3 linked regions of the Homo sapiens genome follow. The protein of the gene in region 2 interacts with the protein of the main gene of each other region in a biochemical or structural test. Each region holds a gene or a part of one and is shown on either strand. Other genes may lie near its edges.

Evidence for each region.
Region 1: the proteins of EIF3A (region 2) and PAIP1 form a complex in vitro, tested with the Homo sapiens proteins (one study listed by BioGRID).
Region 3: the proteins of EIF3A (region 2) and BZW2 form a complex in vitro, tested with the Homo sapiens proteins (one study listed by BioGRID).

Annotation. Positions count from the first base shown.
Region 1 is NC_000005.10:43,540,078-43,547,115, reverse strand, and holds part of PAIP1 (polyadenylate-binding protein-interacting protein 1), read left to right. Parts: intron 1-3,999; coding exon 4,000-4,112; intron 4,113-7,038. UniProt on the Homo sapiens protein: Acts as a coactivator in the regulation of translation initiation of poly(A)-containing mRNAs. Its stimulatory activity on translation is mediated via its action on PABPC1. Competes with PAIP2 for binding to PABPC1.
Region 2 is NC_000010.11:119,035,798-119,042,835, reverse strand, and holds part of EIF3A (eukaryotic translation initiation factor 3 subunit A), read left to right. Parts: intron 1-63; coding exon 64-842; intron 843-4,396; coding exon 4,397-4,598; intron 4,599-5,526; coding exon 5,527-5,717; intron 5,718-6,567; coding exon 6,568-6,797; 3' UTR 6,798-7,038. UniProt on the Homo sapiens protein: RNA-binding component of the eukaryotic translation initiation factor 3 (eIF-3) complex, which is required for several steps in the initiation of protein synthesis.
Region 3 is NC_000007.14:16,684,143-16,691,180, forward strand, and holds part of BZW2 (eIF5-mimic protein 1), read left to right. Parts: intron 1-1,762; coding exon 1,763-1,898; intron 1,899-5,654; coding exon 5,655-5,764; intron 5,765-7,038. UniProt on the Homo sapiens protein: Translation initiation regulator which represses non-AUG initiated translation and repeat-associated non-AUG (RAN) initiated translation by acting as a competitive inhibitor of eukaryotic translation initiation factor 5 (EIF5) function.

The sequences.
Region 1 (7,038 bases), on a different chromosome or scaffold from region 2:
ACATTTAGTTTTTATCCCAGCATATTGGTCATTAACATATTAACGCTTTTTTTTTTTTTTTTTTTTTTTTTTTGATATGGAGTCTTGCCCTGTCTCCCAGGCTGGAGTGCAGTGGCGCAGTCTCAGCTCCCTGCGACCTCCGTCTCCCGGGTTCAAGCGATTCTCCTGCGTCAGTCTCCCAGGTAGCTGAGATTACAGGTGTGCACCACCATGCCCAGCTAATTTTTGTATTTTTGATAGAGACAGGGTTCCACCGTGTTGACCGGGCTGGTCTCGAACTCCTGACCGCAAGTGATCTGCTTGCCTTGGTCTCCCAAAATGCTGGGATTTTACAGACATGAGCCGCTGCACCTGGCCTCATTAATGCTATTTTAAAAGTGAAAAATACAGTAGACAACACTGGCTTAACACAAAATTTCTTAGTCAGTGTGAGACTGGTCAAAAAAAATGGGCCATGATCAGAAATGTAAACTTTAGGTTCTTTAAGTCACTGTTACAAGAGCAACTCAAATTTGGAATATATGGAAGGGAGATTATAATGCAAATTAATGATTATTTTCTATCCTAATGTTTCATTTGGCTGCTTTTCCAAGTTATTCTGGATGGTTACTGGACCCCAAGATTACCTAGCCAACTGTCAGTTTTGAGGAAGTACCTGAGATGTTAGGAAGACAGAACTGCACTGTTTGTCCTCATTTCTGCTTTCTGCTGATAAATGGATTGAAAAGGAATATGAGATAAGAAAATGAAACAAATGTATTTATTTCTTGTTGCCTTTCTGGCTTCCTCCACTATTTAGTTTCAGTTATTCAGTAGGCTGCGTAATTATACTTATTCAGGGCTGGACAAAGGGTCAGTAACCTGATAAGCGTCAACTATTTCTCTGATTGTCAAATATGTAGTCAGTATGTTTAATGTTTTAATATTCTATGATCAATGATGCATAGGTTTATCAATAGCTGCTAAGTTTCATTGAGGTAATTTATGGAAATTTACTCATAGCAACTAACAAACGAGGAAGTATTACAAAAGATGACAGATTAGGCCAGGCGCAGTGGCTCATGTCTGTAATCCCAGCACTTTGGGAGGCCGAGGCGGGTGGATCACCTGAGGTCAGGAGTTCAAGACCAGCCTGACCAACATGGAGAAACCCTGTCTCTACTAAAAAAAAATACAAAATTAGCTGGGCTTGGTGGTGCATGCCTGTGATCCCAGCTACTCGGGAGGCTGAGGCAGGAGAATCGCTTGAACCCGGGAGGCGGAGGTTGCAGTGAGCCGAGATTGCGCCACTGCACTCCAGCTTGGGCAACGAGCGAAACTCTGAATCAAAAAAAAAAAAAATGACAGATTAAATACACATTCAACTCTGATATCTCCCAAACACCACTAAAATGATGCTATGGGGATTTTTAAAAGGCGGAAGCTCATAGGGACAGAGAAGAGGAAAAGAAAAGCACTAGTTTTGAAGACTAGAAAGCAGGTGGGTGAGTGGTACCTGATTTGGCAGATCTAACGTTGAATTCCAAGCCAGTGGTGGTAAAGCTGAGAATCACCATGACTTACAGTGCAAAACCTAAAAGGTTCTAAAATAAGGATGGAATGAGGCTAAAAGGATTGCTTGAGAATCTAAAAAGTTAGACCATCCAGATCTTTTTACACTGAACAGCCGGTTTGAAATTTTGTTGTAACCCTTCTTATGAAATTAACAAAGGACGTACTCTGTCAAAAAGAGGAGTTATGCCACGGATGAAGACATGGGAACCAGGAAAAGGAACTCTACAGGAGAGACTAAGTGAACTGTCCAGATGATGGTTCAAAGGAGATCTCAAAACAATAGCAGCATGCATAGTAGGTCTGAAGCAGCCAGGCTTCACTGGACTAGGTCAGAAGGCTCCAGGAAAGACTTCCGTAATAAGATGAGCACACATGCTGTAAGACATAAGAAGAAATTTACAGAGTAGTGAGTTTAGGGATAAATCAATGAGAAGAATATAAAAGTGTAGTAAAAACTGAATCTAGGGAAGACAAAGTTGTGCAAAAGTAAAAGCAGTGTAATACATGGTTCAGCTATAAATGAAAACACAGCAAATGAATAAAATCATAACCATACTGTGATAGGAGGAAATAGTAGAGTGGGGTGAAATTAAGCAGGGTGAAAGCTAAAAGCTCATCTTCCATGATGGGAAACTGTAAGTTGAGTATCCCGTATCTGAAATGCTTGAGATTTCAAGCATTTCAGATGGATTTTTTCAGATTTAGCATATCCAGTATATAATGAGACACCTCAGGGAGGGTACCTAAGTATATTACAGCTGAAGGGGGTTGACAGGGTCTTTTTTCCTTTGGGGATGCTGAATAAATTATGTGTTGTACACCTGTGTTTTGACTGACCTGTCACATGAGGTCAGGTGTGGAATTTTCCACTTTTGGCATTATGTGGACACTCATATTTTCTGTTTTTGGAGGATTTTAGATTTTTGGACAGGGATGCTCAAGTTGCAGTAAGAAATAACATCTAAACTGAAAAATTACGTAGTGCGGAGATATGGGGATTAAAACATTTTTGGCTGAAGAAGTCAAAAGTGGTTGTCTTTGGGAGTAAAACCGGGATGTAAGTAGGAAACTGTTGAATGACAAGCCTTATAGAACTTGTCTTTAAATCGTGTTATAACACTAAAAAGAAGCTAAAGGAAAACATGCAGTGCCAATAATGGGAAAAATGTAAGGGTGAACCAAGTCTTGGGTACCAGCTAAACATACATGATGTCAGGAGAAATCACTCTTTCTCCCTTAATGTGACATATACTGGCCCCATGTGAGCAAGGAAATAATTAGAAATAAAAGTTAGTAAGTAGACCCAACATATAGAGTCAGAGGGGTAGCAGGACATTTGTTAGATCTAGATTCTATGTTCAATTACATTTGTGGCCAAGTCCCTTAGCTTTTTTTTTTTTTTTTTTTTTTTTTTTAAAAAGATGGGGGCTTTGTTTTGTCACCCAGACTAGAGTGCAGTGGCGTGACCACAGCTCACTGCAGCCTTGAACTCCTACACTCAAGTGATCCTTCCACCTCAGCCTCCAGAGTAGCTGGGACTACGGTGCATGCTACCGTGCCCAGCTAATTTTAAAATTTTTTTATAGAGATGGTGGTCACACTGTGTTGACTAGGCTGGTCTTGAACTCATGGCCTCAAGCGATCCTCTGGCCTTGGCCTTCCAGAGTACTAGGAATACAGGCATGAGCCACTGTGCCCGACTTCTTAACCTTTTAATGTGTGTTTTCTTACCTAATATTAGATGGTAAACTATGTTCTCTACTATTCTTTAGAAATTGCAATTAAAGTTAAACTTGCTGAACACTGCTTCAGTTATATCAACAATCTTTGATGTGTAGTGTTTTCTTACTTTTTTTTTTTTCTGTTTTTAAGTAGCTTAGCTGTTTTCATTTCCCCTTTACCCAATCATTCTTGGAGTGTTTAAGTGTTAGTTGCTTGTGCCAGTTACCATTAATCACCTCTTTAAAGTCTAACTGAAGCTCAGGGAGGTTTACTGATGTCCAAAGTCATGAAGCAAAATGCCAGGGAATCTTGTCCTGGACTGCCAAACACTAAAAAGTCTGTGCTTTCCTGCCCCAAGAAGCCCCACTGGTCAACAGTTTGGCAGTATTCTCATTCATAATTGTCACTGTGCAGTTGAGGACATGTACAGGTTTTCTGCAAAAAATGGGTTAGCATCAGGAGACATTATCTCTTCGCTTTCTGGTAGCCTCAGGTAACTGATGGGTTTTTTCTTTTTTTTTTTTTTTTTGTACTTATTGTGGTTCTTGCTGTAAGGTTGGGAGGGAAAGTGAATTTAATTTCCTTAAGCCTAACAATGACAAAAGACTTGTATATATGGTCAGTTTGGGGAGTCAATTTTTTCTTCTTTAGAATGTTGCTGTTAAGTATTTACATTAATAATGATGTACCTATGTCATATAACACTTTTCTTCTTTTTAAAAGGCCACATCTATCCCAAATTTCTCTTATATGGGAGCTCGCCTGTGTAATTACCTGTCCCATCATCTGACAATTAGCCCACAGAGTGGCAACTTCCGCCAATTGCTACTTCAAAGGTCAGTGTAAATGTGAAATTAAAGGAAAACTACTTCTAAATATACTAGAATTTGACCATTCCTCAGACCATATATTATAAAAAGCTGCAGGAAAGAATAGGGCAGCCTATTCTTATGTGCATTATATTTGAAGTTTATAGTTCAGTATACCAGTCTTTTTTCTGTAATGGTCTGTGAATTTGGTTTTGTGTTTAGAAAGATCTTTCCTTTTCCAAGATCTTAAAAATAAACACTTATGTAATTCTTATTACTTTGGTAGCTTTGGTTTGAATAAGGATCTAATTTTATTTAGATTAGAATAAAAGTGAATAATCCATTTTTCCTTATTGATTTGAATTGCCACTTTTATCACACTTGCATTATTTGGGTTTTGATTCTGGATTTTCATTCCATTTATCACTTATTCTGTTCCTTTTTATTACCATACAATTCATACAATAGCTATTAAAAAGCTTTTTTTTTTTTTTTTTGAGATGGAGTCTCACTTTGTCTCCCAGGCTGGAGTGCAGCGGCACGCTCTTGGCTCACTGCAACCTCTGCCTCCCACAGGTTCAAGTGATTTTCCTGCCTCAGCCTACCCAGTAGCTGGGACTACAGGCACCCGCCACCATGCCCGGCTAATTTTTGTATTTTTAGTAGAGACGGGTTTCACCATGTTGGCTAGGCTGGTCTCAAACTCCTGATCTCATGTGATCCACCCACCTCAGCCTCCCAAAGTGCTGGGATTACAGGCATGAGCCACCCTGCACTGCCAAAAGCTATCATTTTTAAAAATATCTTAGGGTAATTAGTTTTTTGTTCTTTTGTGGGATTTTTTTTTTTTTTTCCGAGACCGAGTCTTGCTCTGTCACCCAGGCTGGAGTGCAGTGGCTCAGTCTTGGCTCACTGCAACCTCTACCTCTGAGGCTCAAGCGATTCTCGTGCCTCAGCCTCCCCAGTAGCTGGGATGATGGGTGCGTACCACCATGCCCAGCTAATTTTTGTATTTTTAGTAGAGATGGGGTTCACCATGTTGGCCAGGCTGGTCTCGAACTCCTGACCTCAAGTGATCCGCCCACCTCAGCCTCCCAAAGTGCTGGGATTACAGGCGTGAGCCACCACGCCCAGCCTGTCAAATATTCTTTGCTATGCTTGTTTCGTCTAATGAACTTTAGAATCAGTGTTTGAAATTACACAAGTCTTGCTAGTATGTTAGATATTTTGGAGATAATACTCAATTTATAAGCTAATTTAGAGAAAACTAGTTTTCTTATAATTTGATGTCTTCAGTAACAAGGTTATCTTCAAGTTTATTATAGTTCGTCCATTAGTTTTTTAAGTGACTTTTAATGATTGCAAAGCATTCCATTGTGTGGTTAAACTGCAGTGGAACAGAATAAAGATTCTAGAAGTAGACCCCAGAGACCCTTGAAAATTCAAGCTTTTGATAAAAAGGATAAATTGTGCTGGTAGCATAACTGGATAGTCATTTGGGAAAAAAAGATGAGTTCCCATCTCACTCTCTGTGCTGAAATCCCAAATATGTCAGAGACTTATTAAAAGTGAAATGATAGGTGGGGCACAGTGGCTCATGCCTGTAATCCCAGTACTTTGGGAGGCTGAGGTGGGCGGCTCACGAGTTCAGGAGATTGAGGCCATCCTGGCTAACATGGTGAAACCTCATCTTTACTAAAATAACAAAAAAAAACCCTAAAAATACAAAAAAAAAAAAAAAAGCTGGGCGTGGTGGCGGGTACCTTTAGTCCCAGCTACTTGGGAGGCTGAGGCAGGAGAATGGCGTGAACCCGGGAGGCGGAGCTTGCAGTGAGCAGAGATCGCGCCACTGCACTCCAGCCTGGGTGACAGCCAGACTCCGTATCAAAAATAATAATAATAATGAAAATACTTGGAATAGCGCCAAATAGATATAGATACAGTTTGGAAAAATACAAATGTCAAAGTTATAAAAAGATATCTAACCATACTTATAATTAAAGAAACACAAATTATAGCTTCTGTAAAGATTCAGAGTGGGTACTTGTAGGCGGTAGGACGCCAGGAATGCTCACTCATATTTTTCAGTGCTTCTCACCCCCGGCTGTGCCTTAGAGTTACCTAGATACTTAAAGCCGAGATCCTGTCTGAACCCTTTGAAATTCTGGTGTAATTAGACGAGGTGGAGCTAGGACATGGTTTTTTAAAGCTTCCCAAGTGATTCTACTGTATAGCTATGATTGAGACCCACTCTTCTCATTGACTGTTACCCACCATATGTGCTTCTGTAGTACTGTAATCCTGTCAATAATAATGTAGAGAAATACTAGTGAGCTAACAAGTAAAAAGCAAAGCATAATTCTGCTACCTCTTTAAAAAATATATACATACTTTGAAAAAGATGGAACGGAAGTTACCTTCACAGCAGTTATCTCTTGTTTTTAGTAGTAGTGCAGGTGACTTTGTTCTTTATACTTTTTCTGTTTTAACCTTTCCAAAATAAACATACATTGCTTTTATAATTGAAAATCTTTAGCTTAAAAATTTGACTTTTCACCTAGTCAATTATGTAGGTATTTGTTTGCATGTACATAATCATATCCTAACGTACAGTCTGTCATAGCATTTTATGAAAAAAAAAGTTATTTCATCAACTCTTACCGACAAAGTTGTAACAGAAAAGCAGCCAACAGGTGTTTTTAAATAACTGATTTGGCATTAATTAACTGATCTCTTCCATTATTAACCAGAATGTACTATCTATAAATATCCCAACTTTTTTCTGATGAGGAATTTAATATGTACAAGATGATAACAAATATCTTACCACATTTGACTTAAACAGAAGATGTTGCTCAGTTAATATACCTCGTAAACATTGGAATTGGCCACGTAAGCACAGTAAGCTGTGCTGGGGTTTCGTGGTTGGCAAACTGACCCAGAGTCAATTACT
Region 2 (7,038 bases):
ATCCCCAAAGGATCATATGCTTTTTTATTTTATATATTTTTAATTGTTCTTGTTGCTGTGTAGGGAGTGGAGACGTGGAGAAGGGCGAGATGAGGACAGGTCTCATAGAAGAGATGAAGAGCGGCCCCGGCGTCTGGGGGATGATGAAGATAGAGAGCCCTCTCTTAGACCAGACGATGATCGGGTTCCCCGGCGTGGCATGGATGATGACAGAGGCCCTAGACGTGGTCCTGAGGAAGATAGGTTCTCTCGTCGTGGGGCAGACGATGACCGGCCTTCCTGGCGTAACACAGATGATGACAGGCCTCCCAGACGAATTGCCGATGAAGACAGGGGAAACTGGCGTCATGCGGATGATGACAGACCACCTAGACGAGGACTGGATGAGGACAGAGGAAGCTGGCGAACAGCTGATGAGGACAGAGGACCAAGACGTGGGATGGATGATGACCGGGGGCCGAGGCGAGGAGGCGCTGATGATGAGCGATCATCCTGGCGTAATGCTGATGATGACCGGGGTCCCAGGCGAGGGTTGGATGATGATCGGGGTCCCAGGCGAGGCATGGATGATGACCGGGGTCCCAGGCGAGGCATGGATGATGACCGGGGTCCCAGGCGAGGCATGGATGATGACCGGGGTCCCAGGCGAGGGTTGGATGATGATCGAGGACCTTGGAGGAACGCCGATGATGACAGAATTCCCAGGCGTGGTGCAGAGGATGACAGGGGCCCTTGGAGAAACATGGATGATGATCGCCTTTCAAGACGTGCTGATGATGATCGGTTTCCCAGACGGGGTGATGACTCAAGACCTGGTCCTTGGAGACCATTAGTCAAGCCAGGTAAAATTCTATTTCCTAGAATATGCTTAAGTGTTCACCTGTAAAAGTGAAATTCTGATGGATAAATATCAGGGCTGTATTGTTATTTTCCAGATAAACTGGTCTTTCATCTTTCCTTCAGTATCATTTGCAGTGACTTCGCTGTCAAAAGTTTGCCTTCAGAATACCACCATCCAAAACATAAATAACCCAACCCCTCTCTTCTTTAGTGATGTGCTCTTTGTTTTCCTTCTGCTTCGATGACTGCTTCTTTGAAGGCTCTTCCTGTACTCATGCTTTCAGTATTGGTGTATTTTTCAGGTTTTACTGGGAACCAGCCTCCTTTTAAAAATAAATAATTGAAACCAAAATGTACTTTATATATTTATTTTTGCCAACTGAGAGATTATGCAAGGAGGAACTCATTTTACTTTACTTTTTTTGAGACAGGGTCTTGCTCTGTTGCACAGGCTGGAATGCAGTGGTGCAGTCATGGCTCACTGCAACCTTGACCTCCCGGACCCTAGGGAGCCTCCCACTTCAGCCTTCTGAGTAGCTAGGACTACAGGCGCATGCCACCACACCCTGCTAATATTTTATTTTTTGGAGAGACGGGGTTTCGCTATGTTGCCCAGGCTGGTCTCAAACTCCTGGGCCCAAGTTATCCTTCTGCCTCTCCCTCCCAAAGTGAAGTGCTGGGATAACGGGTGTGAGGCGCTGCGCCCAGCCTCATTTTTTTTCTTAGTCCTGGGCCTGCTTATTGTTTCACACTTTATTATTCGTGAGCAGTTGTATACATGTTTGTGACATGCGTCTATTACCATTTTTTTTCTTTTTGAGGTGGAGTCTTGCTCTGTCTCCCAGGCTGGAGTGCAGTGGTATGATCTCAGCTCACTGCAACCTCTGCCTCCCAGGTTCAAGCAATTCTCCTGCCTCAGCTTCCCAAGTAGCTGGGACTACAGGCACATGCCACCATGCATGGCTAATTTTTTTTTTTTTTTTTTTTTTTGGAGACGGAGTCTCGCTCTGTCATCTGGCTGGAGTGCAGTGGCGCGATCTCCCCTCACTGCAAGTTCTGCCTCCCAGGTTCATGCCCTTCTCCTGCCTCAGCCTCCTGAGTAGCTGGGACAACAGGTGCCTACCACTATGCCTGGCTAATTTTTTGTATTTTTAGTAGAGATGGGGTTTCACCATGGTAGCCAGGATGGTCTCGATCTCCTGACCTCTTGATCCGCCTGCCTCAGCCTCCCAAAGTGCTGGGATTACAGGCATGAGCCACCACGCCCGGCCATTTTTTTGTATTTTTAATAGAGATGGGGTTTCACCATGTTGGCCAGGCTGCTCTCGAACTCCTGACCTCAAGTGATCCACCCACCTCGGCCTCCCAAAGTGCTAGGATTACAGGCGTGAGCCACTGCCCCGGCCAGTTTTCTCTAGGTAATTTCTGCGTACTGCACACAGGTGACAGCTGCTTACTGCATATAGCACATCTCCACTTGGTAGTCTTACTGAATGTCTAACACAGCCTATCCAAAACTGGACTCATTACCATCACATACACGTGCACTTGTTCACGCCCACCCATCCCTCTGATTCTCTTCAGGGGCATCACTGTCCATCTAACTGTCTGAGCTAGGATTCTGGGAGTTGTTTTGTCTCTGTTTCATCCTTTATGTTAAATCTTTAGTTCAGTTCTGCCTTTTTGATGTTCCTGAAATCCACCCTCCTCTCCATTCCCATTGCTTGTACTTGGTCCTGGGTCAGCATCATTTTCCTCACCCGCTAACTGGTTTTTGCTGCCTCTCTTACTCCCAGTTTTAATTTTGGGTGTCAGGGAAATAACCAGAGCAGTTGTTGTAAGTGCAGATCTAAGTGAGCTGCTTCCTTGCTTTCCCCAGTTGTTTCTGTTGCCTACTTCGTCTCTTCTAGTCTCACTTCATTCTGCTGTTCGGCTGTTACCTTGTGTAAGACATTTAATTTTTCTTTTCCTCATGTTAAATGGGGTAACAGTATAGCAGATTCTTACTAATTTGCTAATTATATTTTATACAGTTGCCATGAATACTGAACTCATGTTCCTAGGGTAAATACAAGGTTAGGTTCTTGTAAGCTTCTAGTCATGATATTTTTGTCAACCAATCAATACATAAAATGTCTTTTATGTGTTTGTGTTTAAAGACTCCCTATTTCTGATATGTTGTTGATTCATTACCATTGAATTCATGGTCAACAGCATTATAACTCATTCATGAACAAAGCTTATCTAATACATGTATTTTCTCCTTAAGGCATATCATAGCCACCTTGTGCTTGGGGCCACTAAACAGCATTTGTTTTTTCTCTTTTTGAGGTGGGGCCTCACTGTCTCCCAGGCTGGAGTGCAGTGGCGTGATCTCAGATCACCGCAACCTCTGCCTCCTGGGCTCAAGAGATCCTACCACATCAGCCTCCTGAGTAGTAGACTATAGGTGCACACCACCAAGCCCAGCTAATTTTTGTATTTTTTTGTAGAGATGTGGTTTTGCCATGTTGCCCAGGCTGGTCTTGAACTCCTGGGCTCCAGGGATCCACCCTCCTCAGCCTCCCAAATTCCTGAGATTACAGGCATGAGCCACCACGCCTGGCCACTAGACAGCATTTTAGCACTACACTTGGAGGCCATTTTAAACAGTGAGGTCACCAGCAAATTTACATCTCTATATGTACTGTATATAAAATGTTCCTAGATTCATATATTCCATGCATAAGTGTGAGCCACTGTGCAGGGTTAAAGGATTTATTCATGATTAATGACTAGATAATGGGTGGCAAATGGTGGAGGACAGGAATATAAAAGGAAAGATTGTTTTTTGGATATGAAGGGCTTGAAAACGTTGCAAGGTATAAATACCTCAAAATTGGGACTCAGAGAAAACTCTTGAAGTTTCTGCTTAAATGAGTGATCTGTGTAACATCAGAACAGATACTATGCTGAAATCTGCGTGCAATAGGAAAAATTCTAAAATTTTCAGTGATACTTTTGTTTTATGGAACACTTAACACAGATCATTTAAGGTTTTTGGTATTTTTTTTTCTTTTCCTGTTTGTTTTTTGAGACAGTCTCATTCTGTCATCCAGGCTGGAGTACAGTGGCACTATCTTGGCTCACTGCAGCCTCTGCCTCCCAGGTTCAAGCAGTTCTCATGCCTCAGCCTCCTAAGTCAAGTAGCTAGGACTACAGGCGCACCACCACACCTGGCTAATTGTAGTTTTAGTAGCAACAGGGTTATTACCATGTTGGCCAGGCTGGTCTCGAATTCCTGACCTTAAGTGATCCACCTGGCTCGGTCTCCAAAAGTGCTGGGATTACAGGTGTGAGCCACCATGCCCGGCCCATTTTAAGTTTCTCATATAAGTTTAAGATACTGTTAATGATGTCTGTGCAGTGATGTACACAGCTTTAGTATTTTTTTAATCAGTGTCTTAAATTAGCATTTAGAATGATGATGAATTAATGCCAACGTCTATTCATGATTGCCAATCTGTTTCTTCTTTTAAAAATATTTTAAAAATGTTTTGCTTTTTCAAAAAAACAGGTGGATGGAGAGAGAAAGAAAAAGCCAGAGAGGAGAGCTGGGGTCCACCTCGAGAATCAAGGCCATCAGAAGAACGTGAATGGGACAGAGAAAAAGAAAGGGACAGAGATAATCAAGATCGGGAGGAGAATGACAAGGACCCTGAGAGAGAAAGGGACAGAGAGAGAGATGTGGATCGAGAGGATCGCTTCAGAAGACCTAGGTGTGATGCTCTAATTAAATTATTTGTAGAGGCCGGGCGCAGTGGCTCATGCCTGTAATCCCAGCACTTTGGGAGGGCGGATCACCTGAGTTCAGGAGTTCGAGAGCAGCCTGGCCAACATAGTGAAACCCCATCTCTACTAAAAAATACAAAATTAGCCGGGCGTGGTGGCGCATGCCTGTAATCCCAGCTACTCAGGAGGCTGAGGCAGGAGAATTGCTTGAACCCGGGAGGCAGAGGTTGTGGTGAGCCGAGATAGCGCCATTGCACTCCAGCCTGGGCAACAAGAGCAAAACTCCGTCTCAAAAAAAAAAAAAAAAAAAAAAAAAATTCCCTCTTAAAGTAAGAAAATGGAGGCCCAAACTTCGTGGCTGTCCAAAGGCTGTGTGACCCGTTGGGCATTGGAACCAGTCCAGCCATCTTTGTCAGTCCGTTGCTTTTACCCCTGTGGTTTAGGGCAGTCAGTTTTCTTGCCCTTAAATTATCAAAAGCCCTTTGATTTTATTAGTAGTAGAAGTTCTAGCTTGTTCCCGCTGCCAAAGTGTCCTTGTACTGACAAATGTAGACCAGCAGTGTTCGATGCAATTTTCTTCAAGGAAGAAAATGTGTCTGCTGGCCAGTATGGTAGTCAGCAGTCACATTTGGCAGCCAAGCACTTAGAATATATGGTTGATGGTCCTAAGGAAATATCTCCGTTTTACTTTAAATGTAAGTAACCACATATGGGTAGTGGCTAACGAGTGGGACGGCACAGATCTGGGTGTTCTCATTTGTTCTCCACGCCCCAGGCATCAGGTAAGGTCAGGTTATGAGTTTAAACTGTCTGTTATATTTGTAAACTCTAAGCCCCAGCTTGGACTGGATGTACTTATAATTATCCATTTGGTCTAACAGTAAGAACCTGACCTGTCATTGTAAATGGCTACAGGGATGAAGGTGGCTGGAGAAGAGGACCAGCTGAGGAATCTTCAAGCTGGAGAGACTCAAGTCGCCGGGACGATAGGGATAGGGATGACCGTCGCCGTGAGAGGGATGACCGGCGTGATCTAAGAGAAAGACGAGATCTAAGAGACGACAGGGACCGAAGAGGACCTCCACTCAGATCAGAACGTGAAGAAGGTATAGAGGTTACATACAACTGAAGTATTGGAGAACTGTCGTTTCTGGGGGGGGGGGGATTTGGGTTATTTAATTATATCATAAATTTGTATGAAGGCCAACAATAAGAGAGTTGATATTCTATTTAGAATTCATGATTTTCATACAGTTACTCAATGGTCATGTTGTAAAGTGCACTTATCTCTAAATTCAAAGTACAGTAGTAGACTAAATTGGATAGCAGGCAATATATATAAAGTTTACTTAATAAAAATGAAAAAAATTGTTATTTAAAAGCAGCTTCCTGGCAGATTAAGCACAAAGTAGAAACATTTTCTCTGAAATTGTAACAGAAGTTTATTCTGTTTTAAAATATATGTATTTTTCATTTTTAAAATCCTCATTTTTCTCTTGGTTTTTAAAAATTAATTTTCCATATGTCTTGACATCCTGTTATGAGAGAATTTTTCTCTCATAGCCATAACTTTAAAAACTCCTGTATTTTGTATGGTTAATTTGCTGTTAAAATTCTTCAAGAGCCAAAAATCCTTTCAGTTATAAAATTTTCATTCAGCCAGATTTTTGCCACCTTGTCTTACGGGTTTATACTAACTGTAGTCCTTCCCAGGCTAGTGGTTTCTGCCTGTTTTCAGATTTTGAGTTTTATCTGTACATTTGTATGTTAAAGATTGTCAGAAATTGTATGAGCTTTCATTATGATTTCTGTATTTAACAATACAGAATTTAACAGAATTTCTGTATTTAACAATGATTTCTGTATTTAACAATCTTTAGTACAGGAATTTTGAGTAATTTGAGCCAATAGAATATAGTACTAACTTAATTTTTTTTTTTTAATTAAACTTTTTAGTAAGTTCTTGGAGACGTGCTGATGACAGGAAAGATGACCGGGTGGAAGAGCGGGACCCTCCTCGTCGAGTTCCTCCCCCAGCTCTTTCAAGAGACCGAGAAAGAGACCGAGACCGAGAAAGAGAAGGTGAAAAAGAGAAGGCCTCATGGAGAGCTGAGAAAGATAGGGAATCTCTCCGTCGTACTAAAAATGAGACTGATGAAGATGGATGGACCACAGTACGACGTTAAGTCTCAAGATAATGGATTTAAACTGGTGTCTTAAATAGGTTTGATCACATTCAAGGATTATTATACTTGTGCTTCAACCAATCTAAATTGGATTCTTTAATGTTGTTTCACCATAACACAAAAAGCATGAACTTGTATTAATCCTATATAATAGATTGATCATGCACCATATCCACAGGAGGTTGGAAAAACCATGCCATTTTCTGGAATTTAAGGGTGTTGCATTATTTCATCAATCATT
Region 3 (7,038 bases), on a different chromosome or scaffold from region 2:
TATACTTGTAGGCATAACTACATGTATTAATAAGGGAAAATGCCCATGACAAATTAAGTGGAAATGCGAGGTGCAAAGCAACCATTTGGTAGTAGTTTGACCTGGGGCAAATTACTTAATATCTTTGTACCTTAGTGTTCTTTTCTGTAATTGGAGATGGAGACTGTTGTAGGTATTAATACACATAAAGGGATCAGAAGAGTGTCTGGTCCACTCAACAAGTTTTAGCTATCATTAGCATATAATGCAGTAAAAAACAATATGTGTGTATACATGTAATTATGTTTTAATGTTGATTAATATAATTGAGCAATGTGGTTATTATTTTTATGATGATCTAATTTTTGTACCATTTCTATGTGATTAAGTATATTTTAAATGAATATGGTTATATGTGTGAGCTTAAAGAAGTGGTGTTAAAATTTTATTTTAGAGGCTAATTTTTATTATTCTCGTTTAAATGTTATTTATTTTTATAATGGAGGAAAAGGACAAATTGACATGAACTGTCTATATTTATGTTAGTTCTTTCATTCTTCCCCATTTCTGATGCTCCTTGGAACTTAAGCCTTTCAATCCCTCATTCCCTCACTCCCTGGCACTTACTTAGATGTTAACTTCTTTTTAATTTGTTGAGAATTTAATAGGTATAAATTGAGAGGCAAATGGACTGGTTTGTTTCCAGTTCTGCCACTTTCACATAATGTAAATAGTCTATAATATAATAATCCTTCAATTCTTGGGGAATAGTAAGTTAATATTTTCTTATCCCCTACACAGTTAGTGGAATAATCATGTCATCAGGGTGGAGACACTTAAGTCTCTATCAATGCCAGTGAATTTTGCATTGGCGCAAAATAATGGAAAATCAGCAAGGCCCCTGTGGTGATAGTGGCCCCTGAGGAATTTCCATGGCAAGCCTAATAACTGCTGAAATGGAGAAAGTAACAGTAGAATGTAGTCAAAGCACAAAGCAGAGGAGAGTCAGGAGAGAGAAGGGCATCCCACAGGGCTGACTACTCTTAGAATTTAATACAGGAAGTGGGTTTTTCGTTTTATTTGCTTTGAGCTTACATTCAAATTTTCTAGGGTTGCTACTTTTTTAGTTCCCTGCCTCTGGGGCAAGAGAATCTAAAAGTTTACCAAAAAAACATCAAGAACCTAGAAAACCCCTTTCTCCCTCAACAGTCTTGTTTTGAAGACTGTTGTATTCCGTGAGCTCAGAAAAGTATATATTAAATGTCAAAAGCTTAACTTCGACTCTTTCCTGTTTTTTTTTTTTGTTTGTGTGGGGCTTTTTTTTGTTTCTATGTTTTTGCCGTACAAATTCTATTCAGAGAAAATGGGTACATGTAGCAGGGGAAGAGGTAGTCGCCCAAGGAAGTGGAAAAACTTGAAAAACAATACATTTCAGAAAACATGTCCATCATGTATACTTAACTCTCTTGCATGCACATAGTCAAACATAAATCCATCTGTTTACATATCATCCAAATATCTCTTTTCCTTTCCATGAATGTTATCTACAGCTGTGAGTAAATTAACTGAGAAGAAAGGAACTCTGCCTGCTCAAGTCACTTTCCACAGCATCCAGTTTATCATGAAATGAATTACTATGCTTTGCATATGACCTTCTGTTTGTGTGCCACGTAGCCATGGATGTTCACAGTTTATCTTCCCACTTCAGTCCTTTGCTTCATAGACATGGTTCCTTTTTTTTTCTTTTTCTTTTTCTTTTTTTTTTTTTTTTTTTGACCCACAGCTTCTCCTCTTCCTTAAAGCCTTTTCCGAAACAGAGCAGACAAAGTTGGCGATGCTGTCGGGGATTCTGCTGGGCAATGGCACCCTGCCCGCCACCATCCTCACCAGTCTCTTCACCGACAGCTTAGTCAAAGAAGGTAACGAGGCTCCTGTTTTCTCGCCTGTCAGACAACAAAAGAAAAATAAAGTCACAGATAGTTAGAAAAATGCCAGTGGCTCTTTTTGGTGTCCTCTATTACTCATTCTTCATTTAAGAGAATATCTTTGTATGGGTGTATATTGCCTTTCAAATAATAAAAGGAGTGGACTTGTTAATTGTAGGAAGTTTGAAGGAAAAAATATGCACACCTGTACAAAGACATATTAAGAAAGACTAATAGCAAATTAAAATCTCATGGAAGACTTGATGCCTAGGTCAAATACCCCGAAATCGATCTGGTAATCTTTTTGCCCTTCGACACAAAATGGCAGCCTTTAACTTTCACCCCTATTATAAGAACAAAAACTGTTCCCCTCTCAAGGTCTAGAGAAACTGATGCTCAGATATTCATTTTGATTGCACTTTTTAAGATACTCATTGTCTCAGTTTTAGAAAACAATTTTAAGTCTGCTGCATTAGAAGGAGTCTTGTTTTAATTTTAAGGCATTAAGGGTTGGATAGGCATGCATACCATGGTTTGGTTATAGAATAAAATAAAAGTCGGCTGTTTACTTGTAGGAGGATAATGATAGTCAAATTACAATGCAACACAAAACAGTTATTTTTCCTTAAAAATAAATTAAAAGAGCTTTTGTGAGAACATCTGTTTCTTCTGAGAACTTAAAGTTTTCCTCCTACATATATGAAGTCCTAGCTTCATTCATGCCTATAGTGAAAGAAAGGAGTCATAGTTTTCTTGTAGCTAAGGAAAGAATAGTAAATTGAGAGTCAATTGGTCTTATTCAGAGACTCTTCCTAGTTTTTAGCTTAAAATCACTCAGATTTATGACAATTCAGACTCTGTAATTGTTAGATGTTATTAGTATTATGACATTTTAAAGTATTTCCCTGAAGAAAATTCACAATACAACACACATCTTATTTTTGCTATTAGCCATTTTGCACACAGAAAGTCAACATAGAATATAAATGTTAATCATTAATTATTTTAAATTATCCTAGCCAACATAACAGAAAATAATTGCCTTTCTAGTTTTTTTAAAAACCTAAGTGATGTCTGTAACTTCCTTTGTAATATATCCAAAAATTACGTTATTAGGTGGATAGATATCTGATAAAGCAAATACGGCAAAATATTAGTTATAGAAACTAGATGGTGGGCATGTGAATGTTCATTGTTCAATTTGTTCAACTTTTCTGTATGTCTGGAAATTATTGTAGTAAAATGTTTGGGGGGTGGTGAGGAGAAAAATAACTTTGCTATGGAAGTAACATAGTACCTCTGTTATATGGCTTTTCCTTAAACTCTGCCATCTTTTACAAACTAGAGGTTTAAACCCTTGCTTCCTAATTGGAAAAGGATTAAGAAAATGCTGGGTATGGTAACTCATGCCTGTAATCCTAACACTTTGGGAAGCTGAGGTAAAAAAATTGCTTGAGGCCAGGAGTTTGAGACCAGTCTGGGAAACAAAGCAAGACTCTCTTCTCTACAAAAAAAAATTTAAAAACTAGCCAGGTGTGTTGGCACACCTGTACAATCCCAGCTGCTCAGGAGACTAAGGCAAGAGGATTGCTTGAGCCCAGGAGTTTGGGGCTACAGTGAGCTATAATCACATCATCTTACTACAGCCTGGGCAACAGAGAAAGACTATCTAAAATAAAAAAAAAGAAATAAAGAAAATGGTTAAGAAATTAATCATTTTCCCCAGCTCATCCAATAAATGACCAAGGGAGATGGGATTATCCTACTCAGAGGAGTAACTATAAAGAAAGTTAAATCTCAGTTTTAGGCTCCTAGTTTCAAGCGTAGTTTTTCTTTACGATACAGATTACAGCCTAGTGTTAATTTATATTAAATTTTATATTGGTTTTATGAGCTAATGATAATGCTAAAAATTCATCTTAAGTTGTTTAACATGAACTTTCAGTTAAGGTGTAATGCATGTTTTGTTGTTATAGCCGTTTTTGTTTTTTTTTTAACTTAGTTTCTTTGCTTATTCAAGGGAAGAAAATCAGGTTTAGTTGGTGTCTATATGAATGATAGACCAATTAAATGCTTTTACTTTCCAGTTGCTGGAAGACCTGGGTCAAATTGGTATATAAGGACATGGATTTCTTATGTAACAATAAATAGAAAATTAGGACAGACCTCAGGCTGAACAGCAGTATCATTCAGGACTTAAGTATTTTTCTCCTGTTATCATTCATAGCATTAACTTCATCCCAAGGATGGTGCCCCCTCTAGTTGTTATAAGATGCCTGCTGACACAGTTATGGCATATTCTTCCTGGTTCAGGTTCAGTGGAAGAACACTTCTCCTGAACAGAGGATAATTTATCTTTCCTTCAGCTGATTGGCTGACACAGGCTGCATGACTAGTGCAGGTCCAGTAGCAATTGCCAGGGGCGTGCCTTGGGCAGATGAGCTTAAGCGAGGTCACTAAATTAATCATCAGAAAGGGGTGGTACCAGGACTTAGACTAATCAGTAGTCACCTGGACTGGATAAAAGGGGACCTCTTTTAGGAAGGAGGTAAAGAGAATAGAGGCTGCTTAGGCCACATTATCATTAGCTCATAACAATAGTAGAACCTTCAGTTTAGAAAAATCAGTTAAATGTTTCAGTTACATCTTAACTCTTCATTAAATAACCGCAACATAAATTTAGAAATTTGAAGTGTTCATAGAACTGTCTTCTTGTTATCTGATTATTTCTATTTGGAAATAAGTGGTAATGTAAATGTGGACATGTGATTAAATGGTTTCCTGATTTAACATAACTAGCTTAATAATGATTTTTTTTTAAATCCAGAAGAGTTTAACTTGAAACAGCCTTGGTATTTTTATAGCTTAACTCAAGAATATTTTAAAATGCTTTTTATGGCTGCGTGCAATGGCTCATGCCTGCAATCCCAGCAATTTGGGAGGCCAAGGCAGGTGGATCACCTGAGGTCAAGCGTTCAGGACTAGCCTGCCCAACATGGCGAAACCCTGTCTCTACTAAAAATACAAAAATTAGCTGGGTGTGGTGGTGCATGCCTGTAATCCCAGCTACTTGGGAGGCTGAGGCAGGAGAATCACTTGAACCCAGGAGGTGAAGATTGCAGTGAGCCGAGATCGTGCTACTTCACTCCAGCCTGGGCGACAGAGTGAGACTCCATCCCCCCAAAAATAAAAATAAAAATAAATAAATAAAATGCTTTTTATAAAAAGCAAAACTAAGGTAAATGATATGTGTTCATCTATTCGTAGCAATACTTATTGTATCTATCACTATCAGTGTTCTTGTACTGGCATCCTTTATTAGCAAATTACTTGATAAAGGTGACATTACAGTTTTGTGTCTCCTAATTTACTTTCTTGTGCCTCAAGATCACTGTTATAAAGATGAAATACATATGAACCAGAGGGTGAAATAAAGGCAATAACACCAAAGATACTGGGTGTGAAATATGTTTTTGACCAAGGTAAAATAAAATAAACTTGCAGTTAGACCAGGTTGGATTCAAGGAGTCCAAATTTGAAAAATATTTTAATTTATTTTCCTTTTCCTGAAAATGTTCTAGTTTGAGTAATGAGAAGAGGAGAATTTGCCTAGAGGTCTATTGACTTTTCATTTGTACCAAAATTAGTCTTTTAGTTATTTACACATTTCAGGAAACCTGGTTGCTTTGCACACCATCACAATTGGTTTTGCTCGTAAAAGGAATGAAATTCTCTTTTGTTTTTCAACAGGCATTGCGGCCTCATTTGCTGTCAAGCTTTTCAAAGCATGGATGGCAGAAAAAGATGCCAACTCTGTTACCTCGTCTTTGAGAAAAGCCAACTTAGACAAGAGGCTGCTTGTAAGTGTTTTCTGGTTAAAGAGTTGTATGTATGATGCCTTTCTTGGAGCTTAAGCAATGCCTGCAATGTAGTATATGAGTAAGATCCCTGGATCTGTGTTGACTTGGAGCACTGTTCCTTTTATTTCTGTGTAATTGGTAGTAGAAGCTAATTTCATTTTAATCTTTATTTTGTGAACAAATGGCACAATAAAATTAAAGAATTGTGAAGAATATAGACTTCCAAATTTGTAAGTTTGTTGACATAGTATTAACATTTCATCAGAATTAAGACTTTGTTTTATAGCCATAACTTTTTTACTTTTTTTTTTTTTGAGACAGAGTCTGGCTCTGTCACCCAGGCTGGAGTGCAATGGCACAATCTCGCTCACTGCAACCTCTGCCTCCGGAGTTCAAACAATTCTCCTGCCTCAGCCTCCCGAGTAGGTGGGATTACAGGTGCTCTCCACCACACCCAGCTAATTTTTGGATTTTTTTTAATAGAGACGGGGTTTCACCATGTTGGCCAGGTTAGTCTTGAACTCCTGACCTCAAGTAATCCGCCCACCTCAGCCTCCCAAAGTGCTGGGATTATAGGCGTGAGCCACCACACTCAGCCTATAATCATAACTTTCTAGACATTTTAAGGTTTTAATATGATAAAAATTTCATCAATCTCACTTAATCAAATACTTGTGATGTCTGTCTTGAGTAGCAGTCAGACTGTGCTAATCTCAAATGTGTGTTAAATAGTTTGCTAACAAAATAAAAGTTTAAACAAGATTTCCCTGGAAATACTTAAGCTGTTGCAGAAATTAAACAAGTTAATTGTGTCACAATTGCTTGATTATATTTTTATTTCTCCATCTTTGTGTTTTTCTAAGAAAATCCAGAAAAATATTTTGTTCTTGTAATTTCTATCTGCTCCCTACAATTTCTTTCTTCTTGATGCAGCAGCTGTGAAATGCCAAGATTTCTCCAGGTGGAATTGCTTTTACAGTTCTAGGATGAAGTGTAAAAATAAGACACAGCGCTGCCATCTCTTCACCTGGCCTGTTCTCTGTTGTTCTCTTCCAATGTGTTTCAGTGTGCAAGGGTCCAGTCCCATGAGATAATTCTAAGACTATCTCTTTTCCTCAAGAACACATGAAAGTAATTTTAAATGTAAATACTTGCAATTTAAATCACTTAAGAATACTTTGTTTCTTGAAGTTTACCTTAAATAGATTTGTGTGTTTAAAGTTTTTAGATTATGGTAAAAAAGGTACAGAAGTCTAGATTCTAGTTCATAATAA